3 linked regions of the Homo sapiens genome follow. The protein of the gene in region 2 interacts with the protein of the main gene of each other region in a biochemical or structural test. Each region holds a gene or a part of one and is shown on either strand. Other genes may lie near its edges.

What was found.
Region 1: the proteins of NAPA (region 2) and STX7 form a complex in vitro, tested with the Homo sapiens proteins (one study listed by BioGRID).
Region 3: the proteins of NAPA (region 2) and NSF form a complex in vitro, tested with the Homo sapiens proteins (2 studies listed by BioGRID).

What each region holds. Positions count from the first base shown.
Region 1 is NC_000006.12:132,457,517-132,461,116, forward strand, and holds part of STX7 (syntaxin-7), read right to left. Parts: intron 3,335-3,600; coding exon 3,242-3,334; 3' UTR 1-3,241. UniProt on the Homo sapiens protein: May be involved in protein trafficking from the plasma membrane to the early endosome (EE) as well as in homotypic fusion of endocytic organelles. Mediates the endocytic trafficking from early endosomes to late endosomes and lysosomes.
Region 2 is NC_000019.10:47,501,429-47,505,255, forward strand, and holds part of NAPA (alpha-soluble NSF attachment protein), read right to left. Parts: intron 2,075-3,827; coding exon 1,995-2,074; intron 170-1,994; exon of another isoform or gene 29-169; intron 1-28. UniProt on the Homo sapiens protein: Required for vesicular transport between the endoplasmic reticulum and the Golgi apparatus. Together with GNA12 promotes CDH5 localization to plasma membrane.
Region 3 is NC_000017.11:46,588,755-46,592,581, forward strand, and holds the start of NSF (vesicle-fusing ATPase), read left to right. Parts: upstream 1-1,914; 5' UTR 1,915-2,021; coding exon 2,022-2,033; intron 2,034-3,827.

The sequences.
Region 1 (3,600 bases), on a different chromosome or scaffold from region 2:
CAGTACACTGTAACACTTTCAGGCTCCCATTGGTTTAAAATTTGATAAGTGTATTTCTTTGCTGACAAGTCAAACTGTTCAAATGTTATGGAGGACTAAAAAGGCCTGGGATTCACAGGCTCATTTTTTGTTTTAACTGAATCATGAAAATACACAACTTTTTTTTTTCCAGGAAAGACAGATGTTATTTACCACCAATGAATTTTTATCATATTTAAATGAACTTGAAAATGTCATTCAACTCAAATCCCTCAATCAACTTACTTCAGCCCATTCTGAAACTTCATATTGCAGCAAACCAGCCATGTGAAAGAAATAAATTCAATTTTGACTTTCAAAAAAAATAAATGCTGCATAAGTTACCCTTGTGGACCTTAGCTATTAAGGTGGACAATGACTTTATTTTCTTTACGTAAGTTTTATATTTTATTATGACATTCATTTTTTCTACATGAAGACACAAATAAAAATTATACCAACTACATAAACTATTTTGTACTTTCCTTGCTAAACCACAGATGTATTTCATGGAAAGAGGGGCCTTTAAAGGCACTTATTTATCATTGTAGGTGTGTCTAAACAATTGATATTCAAAAACACAACTTTTTGTGTACAAAATTTTACAATTTTTAACAAAAGCAGTGAAGACACTAAATAACCCAGTGGCGACCTCTTCAAAGTGCAGTGTCCTTGGTCACCAATGCAGATGCTACTGGGGCAGCCAGCGGGCTCAGAGGGTCCAACTCCAGACACTGCATCCATGGCTGTCCTAGACTGAGTTGCACTTGTAAAAGAGATGGTCCCACACCTACTAAAAAAACAAGCTACTCTAGTATCAATATGACATCACTCTTTTACCATCAATCATATTGCAAAACCATAGTATTTAACGACCAATAAACAGCCAAATACCTAATGCCACATTGTCGTTCAATTTACCTGGCTGGTTAATATCAGTCTGTGTTTGAGTATTTCTTTTGAGCACACAAAAACAAATGTATAGTCACTTGATGAGGAAATTCTTCACTTTGACTCAAATGGATTCACCATGCTGTCAGTTATGAAAACAACTCTAATTTTAATCTCCACAGGGCAACCTTCACTTTTCACAGCAGTTCTAAAACTGACCTACAGAAAAGTTCAAGATTTTTTAAAAAATTTGGCTACCATACTATGTTTCTTATTTAATTTTCTCTAATCAATACTACTCTTACGTTCCAAATATTTCATGGGAAATTTTTCCCTCAAACTTAATATGTTTCTTAAACAAATTGAAGCCACTAAAGTTCCTGTTTAAACCACTGATAACTGCCCCAGTTAAAATAATAATAATTTAAAATGATTACACTTCAAATAAAGGTACTAAAATCACGCCCCCCAAATTTGTAAGCGCTTTTGTTGTTATTGGGTACTCACTGTGAATAGAAGTAAATGTACTTGACCTGTATGAGAATAAACATTTTATCAAGTACAGCAAAAAAAACGGAACTGATTGTGAAAGCCATGGGGATGGGACTTTAAAACAGCGGTAAGACGCTGGTTTATCACCAGAAACCTCATGTGCCTCTGTGCACTTGAAGTAAAGACCACATTTGAGCAGGCCTGGTGGGCTGGCACAGGCCTCAGAACAGGTGCTGTTTGTGTGAATTCTCCTCCCTGCATTGTCCATTCTGTTCTAGGGCAGTCTGATTCTGGCAACAGGAGTCTCTAAGTTCCAATCACTCACTCACAAAAGAGTTTTCTGTAATCCCTTTTGTGGAAAAAAATGGAGTTTTTCTGATATGCAAAGCAACTTCTACCAGTCTGACAAAGTAGGTAAAATCGATGACACCCTAAAATAAAAACCTGGAGTGAACTGGTGCTCCAGAAAGATGCTGAATGGCCACAGTGCATGTGGTGATGTCTCCATGCTGAGGTTTCAGGCAGCACAGCACTAAGTATCAGGTGACCTGTGGTCCCACCAGAGCATAGTCCTCATGAAATAGGCCTAACCAGATACCTTTTAACTCATCTTTATTTTGGTTGCAAAGATGTGGTTTACTTAGCTACTTACTATTTGTTCCCATTTGAAGTCTCAGAGCTTGCCAAGTTAAACACCGCCTTCAGTACCGAGCTGCTATACAAGAACATTATAAAATACAAAGTATAAACTAAGATAATCCTCTTTACAGAATTCAGATTAGTGCATTAAAACAACATTGATTTAAAAAGGGAAGTGAGATAACTGGCAAACCTCCAATTGCTTTTTTAATGAAGGATGACACAAAATGGCACGCAAGGTAAACACTAAATTTTGTCAGGTGCTCAAAAACAGTTAATTGTGGGAAAGTTACTTTCCAAAAGTAATTTTGACCTAAAAATATTAACCATTATTCTATAAGACATAAGGGAAGGTAAATAATGGCCCACAAAACCAGATGATATGGTTAAGATAACTAGTTTAGTGGAATAACAAACTGGGGTCTTAAGAATCCAAACGCAATAGGTATTGGTATTGGTTGTTCATACTCTTCTTCCAAATTATGTTAAACATTTTTAGTAACTACACTTTCCCCCGTAAACATCAGACTTAAATAGACCATATGTAAAAACAACCTATCCTTAGTAATTTTACTAGGCAATCTACAGCAAAAGCTTAATATATACACAGAAAGAGTATCAAATAAACTAGAAAAGTATTCACCGACTTCAGGGTAAAAAAGATCTTAAAAGAAAACCAACAAAAAAATGAAAGACACTTTGTGCTGTTGTGAACCAGAAAAATACAACCCATGTATAGACCTTAATTATTTTACATTATTGAGAATATTTTCCCTGCTGAAGCAAATCAAAATTAAATTTGAGAATTTTAATTGAAGTAACACACATCTAGGTGTGTCACAGTGACAGGGAGATGCAAACAGAATACACACACCTTTAAATTTACGAATTCCCAAAACTAAGTCAAGCAGGGTAAATAAATTATAAATGAAAGGCATATGCAATGTGGGCAAAAACTTAACAACTATTAAATTGAAGACCAAGGGAGTTATGTCAGCAGTGACATTTAGAAAATCTTTCAGTATTAGAAAATATCAGATTTAATCCAAAGGAACCACCCCAACCCCCCCAATAAAAATAACAAAGTATGGGAACCATCCTTTATACAATAGCTTTAAAATAATAATTAAAAAAACATGATTACAGGAATCTTCCTACATAATTTAGACAATGTAGTGCGACAGTGTGCTCCTTTATAACTTCAGTGGTTCAATCCCCATATGATGAGACTGATAATCGCAACTCCAATGACAAGGATAAGAATGATGATGCACAGGGTTTTTCTGGATTTGCGCTGCAGACGCAAAAAACAAAACAAAACAAAAAAACATGTTTACAGATTTAGTGGAGTACCTCTACAGCAACTAAAAATAATTTGGTTCATTTCTAGAGTAAAATCAGTAGTAGTATATTGCCCTCAAATTTTTGACTGTGTTTTTTTGTTCCTCAAAAATCTCTTTAATACATATGGCACTATTCTTTCAAAAAAATTCTTGAACTAATGCTACAATTAAGGGAGCAATTTTTCAACTTTCATTGGTAATTTTTCTAAGGGTGTGG
Region 2 (3,827 bases):
TGTTCACATTCTGTTCCCTTCACTGCAGATCCCCATGGACAAGGCACTTGCATGAATTGTGAGGCTCATGGAGTTGGGGTCGGACAACACAGAGCCGGCTCCCTCCAGGAGCTGCATGTCCAGAGAGGGAAACAGGATGTGGACAGCAAGAATGAATACATGCAGACCAGTGCCCATGGGCGGAGGGCAGAAGAGACCGTGCCTGAAGCCTCATCCATCCTGTGCTCATCTGCACACGGTCAGCTTCTGTGGGTCCCAAGCCATTCTGCCCACACATCTCCTAACTGACGTTTGGGAGGCAGCAGCATCTCTCCTCCTCCTCGTGCAGCTGACCACCTCCAGCTCAGCTCTGAGGCTTCTCCCCTTCATTCTCCTCCAGCTGAATCTGAGTCAGAGTTTCTAAGCTGGAAGAGGACCAGGAGGCCTGGCCCTATCCTCTTAAGTTTTGAGCAGCAGAAAAGACAAAGCCTTCCGGGTTTTCACTATATGATTTCATTATTTTCAAGAGTTCCAAATTTGAGTATAAAATTACGGCCAGGCGCGGTGGCTCATGCCTGTAATCCCAGCACTTTGGGAGGCCGAGGTGGGCGGATCACGAGATCAGGAGATGGAGACCATCCTGGACAACATGGTAAAACTCTGTCTCTACTAAAAATACAAAAATAAGCTGGGCGTAGTGGCACGTGCCTGTAATCCCAGCTAGTCAAGAGGCTGAGGCAGGAGAATCACTTGAACCAGGGAGGCGGAGGTTGCAGTGAGCCAAGATCGCGCCACTGCACTCCAGCCTGGCAACAGAGCAAGACTGTCTCAAAAAAAAAAAAAAAAAAAAAAAAAAAAAAATTTCAAGAAAAGGGGATATTACCGGGGGGAAATGGCCTAGGGCTTTTCTTTGAAGAGTTTGGGGGCAGAGGTAACAAATTTTAGGGGAAAAGCAACACCTATGTAATTAAAAAATAAGCTTTTTTTCTCTAGAGGAATTTTCTAAGTTTGGGAGCATAAAAATACAAAAAACATTTGGCTTTATTCACAACGTATTTTGTGAAAACTCAGGAATAACTCTTTGAATTTTGGGGAAACCAACAACATTCTCAAAAACGATGATAATCAATTTTATTGTGCACCTCTGCACCCTGCCTCCATGGTCCCACCACCAGGTTCCCTCTCCTCCACAGTCAGAAGTTCCTCCCTGCATTCAAACACTGGGTCTCTTGCCGTATTTCCTTAATTCAATCTTGGTGACATGAAAGATGTATGATGAAATGAGCCTCGAAAGGGCTCAACACACTGGCTTGTTGGACTTCTTGGGCCTGCAGGGAGCTCCAAACAGATCTCCAGCCTCCCTGAGCCCAAGGGGCTCCTCCCCACCCCTCTCCTCTGTGAAGCTATCCTGCCTCACTGGGGCAGGTTAAACACTCAGGCTCTGCAGTCAGAGCCTTGGTTTCTGAATCTTGGTTCTGTCACTTACTAGTTCTGGCATCCTGGGCAAGAGACTAAGCCAAGCCTCAGTTTCCAAATCTGTAAAATAGGGATATTTATAGACTGACCCTTAGGGCTGCTGTGCTAACGCAATTAAATGATGAGCACTTAGGACTCAACAAACAGCAGCCATGATTCACGTTGTTATTGGAATCACCTGAACATCCTCCCCCAGCCTAGAATTTAGACACTGATGGAAGCACTAAGGAAGTTACCAGGAAACCTGAAGTTCTGAATTTAAGGAGGACTCTAAGAGCTCATCAATCCACATGGGTTTATCTAGGTCTAATAATCTATTTATTCCCATCCTCTCTGTCCTTTCACCAAGGCCCCATGACCCAGAGTATAAAGTAACCCAGCAGGCACAAAACAAGAGAGCAGGCCAGTGGCTTTCCGATGCCGGAGAGGGCATACAAAGAGAAAGGGCCCTCAAGGCCAACCTCTCGGGCAGGCCTGTGTGAGTGGAAGCTGAGGGAGGAGGAGAGCACCTTGGAGGAGCTCTAGCGGAGATGACATACCACTCCAGTTTTTGGCCATTTTGAACATGTTTGCTGCTCTGGCGTAGATTTCGCATGCTTCCTCTATTTTGGATGAGCCTCTGGGGAAAAAGGAAAGAAAAAAAGGAGACAATCTAGTCGGCTATCCAGGAGAAAGCAAGCATTCTGCTCCAGTGCCGGGCACAGACGTGCCCCTACCCCTCACCCTTCACCTGTGAAGCCAGCTTCCCCCAGGCCTCTTGAGTCTGTGGCCCCCGCCCCTGCATACAATGGCACACTCACTTCGGGCAGACCAGCTCCCTCCGGGAGTACTGGGGTAGATACTGGGTGCTTGCTGGGGTAGTGGGGCGAAGAGTTCCTGACCCCACCACAACCCCAGGGTCTGACAGCCTCTTCTACTTCCTGCCTGGGATACTAGGGGCCCACTGGGTCCCAGGCGCGCTACAAATCCCCTTTCCCCGGGAGACTGCAAAGCATTCTGGGGGACTAGCCCAGTTTAAGACATCGTGTTGCTTTCGCAGAGGCAGCCTTAATCCTGTGCCTTGCACTCTGTGGTTGCTCAATAAAGACCTTGCAGCCCTGGAGTGTGTCATTACCAGCTCAGGACTGGGCATATATATCACACAGCCATACAAAGAAATGGGAAGCACTATTTTAAAGTGTAGATATAAGATGTTCCCATTTGTGTTTAAAAAAAAAAGAGGGTGGGCTGGGTGTGGTGGTTCATGGCTCCTGTAATCCCAACACTTTGGGAGGCCAAGGTTGGCGGATTGCTTGAGCTCAAGAGTTCGAGACCAGCCTGGGCCACACGGCAAAACCCCAACTCTACAAAAAATACAAAAAATTAGCAGGGTGTGATGGTGCACGCCTGTAGTCCTAGCTACTAGAGAGGCTGATGTGGGAGGATCACTTGAGCCTGGGAGGCAGAGGTTGCAGTAAGCCAAGATCACACCATTGAACTCCAGCCTGGACGACGACAGAGCCAGACCTTGTCTCAAAAAAAAAAAAAAAAAAAAAAAGAGAAAGAGAGTGAAAATAATAGAAACATACATGTTTATATAAACATAGGATATTTCTGGGCAAATACACAAAAACCTAGTAACAGCATTTTTCTCTTAAGGTGAAGCCTGCAGAAGGAGGGCCAGGTGTGGGAGGCAGACTTATTCACTGGACATCCCGTATTTGTACTGTCTGAATTTTTTTTTAACTGTTTGTACATCTTTTCGAGAAAAAAAATATATACATATATACACACACGTGTACATATATACACATGTGTATATATGTGTATGTGTATATATGTGTGTATATATCTATACATTTACACATACACAGACACACACACACACATATTTTTAAGTATTAGGATTTATATTTGGCCCTGTGGTCCAGCAATGAATTACATCTCTAGCAATTTATCCTAAAAAAACTAATCAGAAAAGTTACAAGGATGTTCAGCATAGCATTATTTAAAACAGCAAAACCCCCCAAAAACTTATTGTCCAACAGTAGGGATACACTGGGAGATAGACAGGAATTTGAAAACATAAAGGGTACCCTGTTTGGGCAGCTTCACTCTGGCTTCTTGACCTCCACATGTACATAATGAGCCTCCTCTTGACTTGGGGGACCTCATTAGTACCTCAAACCCGTAAGTCCCACTGCATTCTTCTGCCCTTAATAATACAACCAGGCTTAGCCCGCGAGGTCTGTAGTCTCTGTAACTGCTCAAACTCCCAATATCTACATAATCAGTAGAATAAAATCCACACACTCTGGAGTCCCACCAAATGGATTTCAGGGCCTCTCTTCACTGGCATAACTAGTGTTTAGTTTATTTTTAAGGAAGAGAAA
Region 3 (3,827 bases), on a different chromosome or scaffold from region 2:
AGGAAACTAGGCCAGGCGTGGTGGCTCACTTCTGTAATCCCAGCACTTTGGGAGGACAAGGCCAGTGGATCACCTGAGGTCAAGAGTTCGAGACCAGCCTGGACAACATGGCAAAACCCTGTCTCTACTAAAAATACAAAAATTAGCTGGGTGTGGTGGCAGGCGCCTGTAATACCAGCGACTTGGGAGGCTGAGACAGGAGAATAGCTAGAACCCGGGAGGCGGAGGTTGCAGTGAGCCGAGATCATGCCACTGTGCTCCAGCCTGGGTGACAGAGTAAGACTGCGTCTCAAAAACAAACAAACAAAAACAAATAAGGAAACTGGGCTCAGAGAGATGAAGGTACACAGGTGATGGGTAGATAGGGACAAAGAAAAGAACCTAACCCTTTGGACTCCCCAAGCCATTCTAATATTTGTTTTTGTAAGTTAGTAGCTTCTGCACGTTAGTATGTCAGAACTCAACTAGTTTCCTATCTTTCCTGATAACCTCTCCGACCCACCCATGATTTAGCTAACATCTGATTTGGTCAACCAAGCACCCTGGTCCTCAGGTTCAGTGTGAGACTTAATGAAATAGGCGTGAATTTTTTTTTTTTTTTTTTTTTTTTTAGACGGAGTCTCGCTCTGTTGCCCAGCCTCGCAATCTCAACTCACTTCAACCTCTGCCTCCGGGGTTCAAGCGATTCTCCCACCTCAGCCTCCTGAGTAGCTGAGATCACAGGCGCCCGCCACCACGCCCGGCTAATTTTTGTATTTTTAGTAGAGACGGGGTTTCACTATATTGGCCAGGCCGGTCTGGAACTCCTGACCTTAGGTGATCCACCCAAAGTGCTTGGATTACAGGCATGAGCCACCGCGCCTGGCTGGCATGAATTTTTTCTTCTGTCCCTAGTTCATCTTCAGGTCACTGTCTGATTTTATTAGTTCTCAAATTTAAATCACTATGCATGCTCAGCTCTTCTAGTTATTTCCCTTCTTTCCTCATGTTGGGAAAAAAACCCCGATTTATTCTAATTGTGAGAAATGAAAGCGAACAAATCCTATCATTCCCTATTGTCTTGTGCAAATATGAAGAGAGATATGATAGTGGGGTAAATAAAAGCATCAGGGAATCCATTCGGCAGAATCTTTCTCCTCTCAGCGTGCTTGCAGTTAGATATTCTGAGATTCCAGTGGAGAAATGGTATGGTGGAAACATTGAGGTTCAACAAGGCTCAATTTAGGGCATATTTTATTCAGATTCTACCATATATATTGTCTAAAATGAAACAACACTGGGGAATGAAAAGGTTGGTCGAAGATGCAAGTTGCCTTTATTAAATAAAGACAAATATTTAATAAAAATAATGTATAAAAATAATCACAATTCACTTTCAAATCTGAAAATACTGAGTTTTCCAGGCTACACATAAATAAAACTGCCAACGATGACAATTCCAGCAACTAGGAAAACAAGTACGCCTACAAAGAAAAGTGAGAAAATTCATGGAGAATTTGAACTCAGAACCAACTCCTCGGAGCTGATCTTTTTTGGGGGAAGCCAGGGAACGCGCCGGGCGCTCTCATCAGCAAGACCATGTTTAAAGAGAGTGTGGAAGCACAGACCAAAATGGACATTCGAGGGCGAACAGCAGCTGGCAAAGGGATAAGTGATCCGAAGCATTAAAGCCCTTGAGACAAATTCCGGCGCGAACCGCCAGTGGGGGATGAGACTCGCAGGCGCAGCCCTCCAGGCCCCGGCGGACTGACACGCACGTTGGAAACGGAGTCACCCACCACAGCCCCGCAGCTCCAGCCAAAATGGCGCCGCCGCTCTGCCCACCCCGCGCACCCCAGGCGGCCGCCGAGCCCGCGCGCGCGCCCTGTGGAGCGAGGACGCCGGGGACGCGGCCAGGGACGCGCGCGTCCTCACGGCGGTTGCACGCCTGCGCGAGGGCGGGCGGCGGGGGCGCGCGCGCGGCGGGGGCGGGCTTTGCCGAGCGCAGAGCTGCAGCCGCCGAGCCGGACGTGTCCGCGAAGATGGCGGGCCGGGTGAGTGCCGGTCTGGGAGCCCAGGCTTGAGGCAGGGGCGCCGGGCTCGCGGGCACTCTGGGGTCCAGGCGGCCCCAGAGGAGTGGGAGTGAATCCGAGCAATGGGGCGCGAGGCCAGAGCGGGACTTGAGGGTAGCAGGGGAGCGGTGGCAGGGGATTAGCCCTCCTCAACAACTCCACCCCCCTCGAGGGGAGATGACCCCTCGTTACACGCGTCTGCTGCGCCTCCCGTCATCCTCCCTTCCCATCCCTTGGGGCTTGTTCCCTCGTCCTCCACACAGCCGCAGGGTCGCGGTCGCCGAAGCCCCCTCTGACGGGCTCTGGGGGTCTTTCCGCACCCCCTTGCGAGGGCTTATTAGGGGGCGCCGGAGTAACTGCCGGGAGCACCTCTGCTGCATTCGGGGCAAGGGGTGTAGGAAGGATCTTCAGGAACCCATGTCTGGCTCTTCACAAATTAAAGGTCGTTGGGAAAGAGGAGGGGGTGCCAATGACTTTTAGTGTTAAAGCCCGGCCATCTGGGGGACCTGTCAACTGTCGGGTCAGGCAGGAATTGGCTTTAGCTTGGAGTGAGGATGGATTTGGGGTGTCACGTTTTGTTTTTATGGATGACACTCGCTTCGAATGCAGCAGGATATGCTGTAGTTTCAGGGTTTTAAATTTACTTCCTCCTTTAGCCTTTAGGATCGTTGGGTAGGATGGGTTTGGCGAGGAGAGAGAGCTGGTTGAGTGCTGTATTGCAGTCTGCCTTGAGCTAAAAGCTCTCAAGGGATGAGTCCTGCCCGGAGATTACACTGGTCATAAACCTGAGGACATTAACTGCGTCATTGGGGGTGAAAGATGTGATTGACTGATCTATTTATAACAGAATTTTTGAATAAGTTTGCATAGATTTATGCATATATGCAAATGCCCTATCTGAAGGGACTTGTAGGTCATGAGATTCTAGAGTAAGAAGGGATCTTAAAGGTCATTTAGTTTGGCTTCTTTCTCTTCCTTTTCCCCATGGCCTCTCCTTTTAAGGCTAGTCCTTCTGCCAGTACTTCAGACCCTATCTGTATATTCACCTGCTCCTTCTTAACATAATCAAGCTTCTCTATCTTAAACCCTTCCCCCACCCCCACAGCTGTCACCTTTTCCCGTCCCAGTTTACAGCAGGAAATTTGATAGAGTTGTCTATATTTATTGTCTTCCATTTGCTTACCACCTACTCACCCTTCAACCTACTGCAGTCTGATTTCTGCCCCATCATCCCACTGAAACCTGTCCCTCAACTTAATTGATACCTTTCAATCCTTATCTTATTTGATATCTCAGCAGCGTTTGACGTTGTTGACCATGGCTTCCTTGACGGAAAGCACTCTTCACATGTGTTCTGGAATGCCTCGCTCCTGGTTTGACTCAGACCTCTCTTTTGCGGCCTCACCCTCCTCTACTTTGTTATTCATTGCTGGTATTCCTCAAAGGCCGTCTTCTCACTCTCAATTTCCCGCTCAGGCAATTTCTTCTAAGCCCATAGCTACAACTGTCTATATGCCAGTGATTCTCAATATTTTACCCCCAGTCCAGACCTGCCCTTTAAGTTTCAGGTTAATATGTCCAACTGCTTATTTAAAATCAAGGTCCCGAAACGCAGCTTTTTCAACTCCGAACCCAGGATCTTAGCCCACCTAACTTGTGTAGATACTCCTCGACTTAACGATGGGGCTACCTTCCGATAAACCCATTGTAAGCTGAAAGTATCAGAAGTTGAAAATGCATTTAATACACCCGATCTACCGAATATCATAGCTTAGC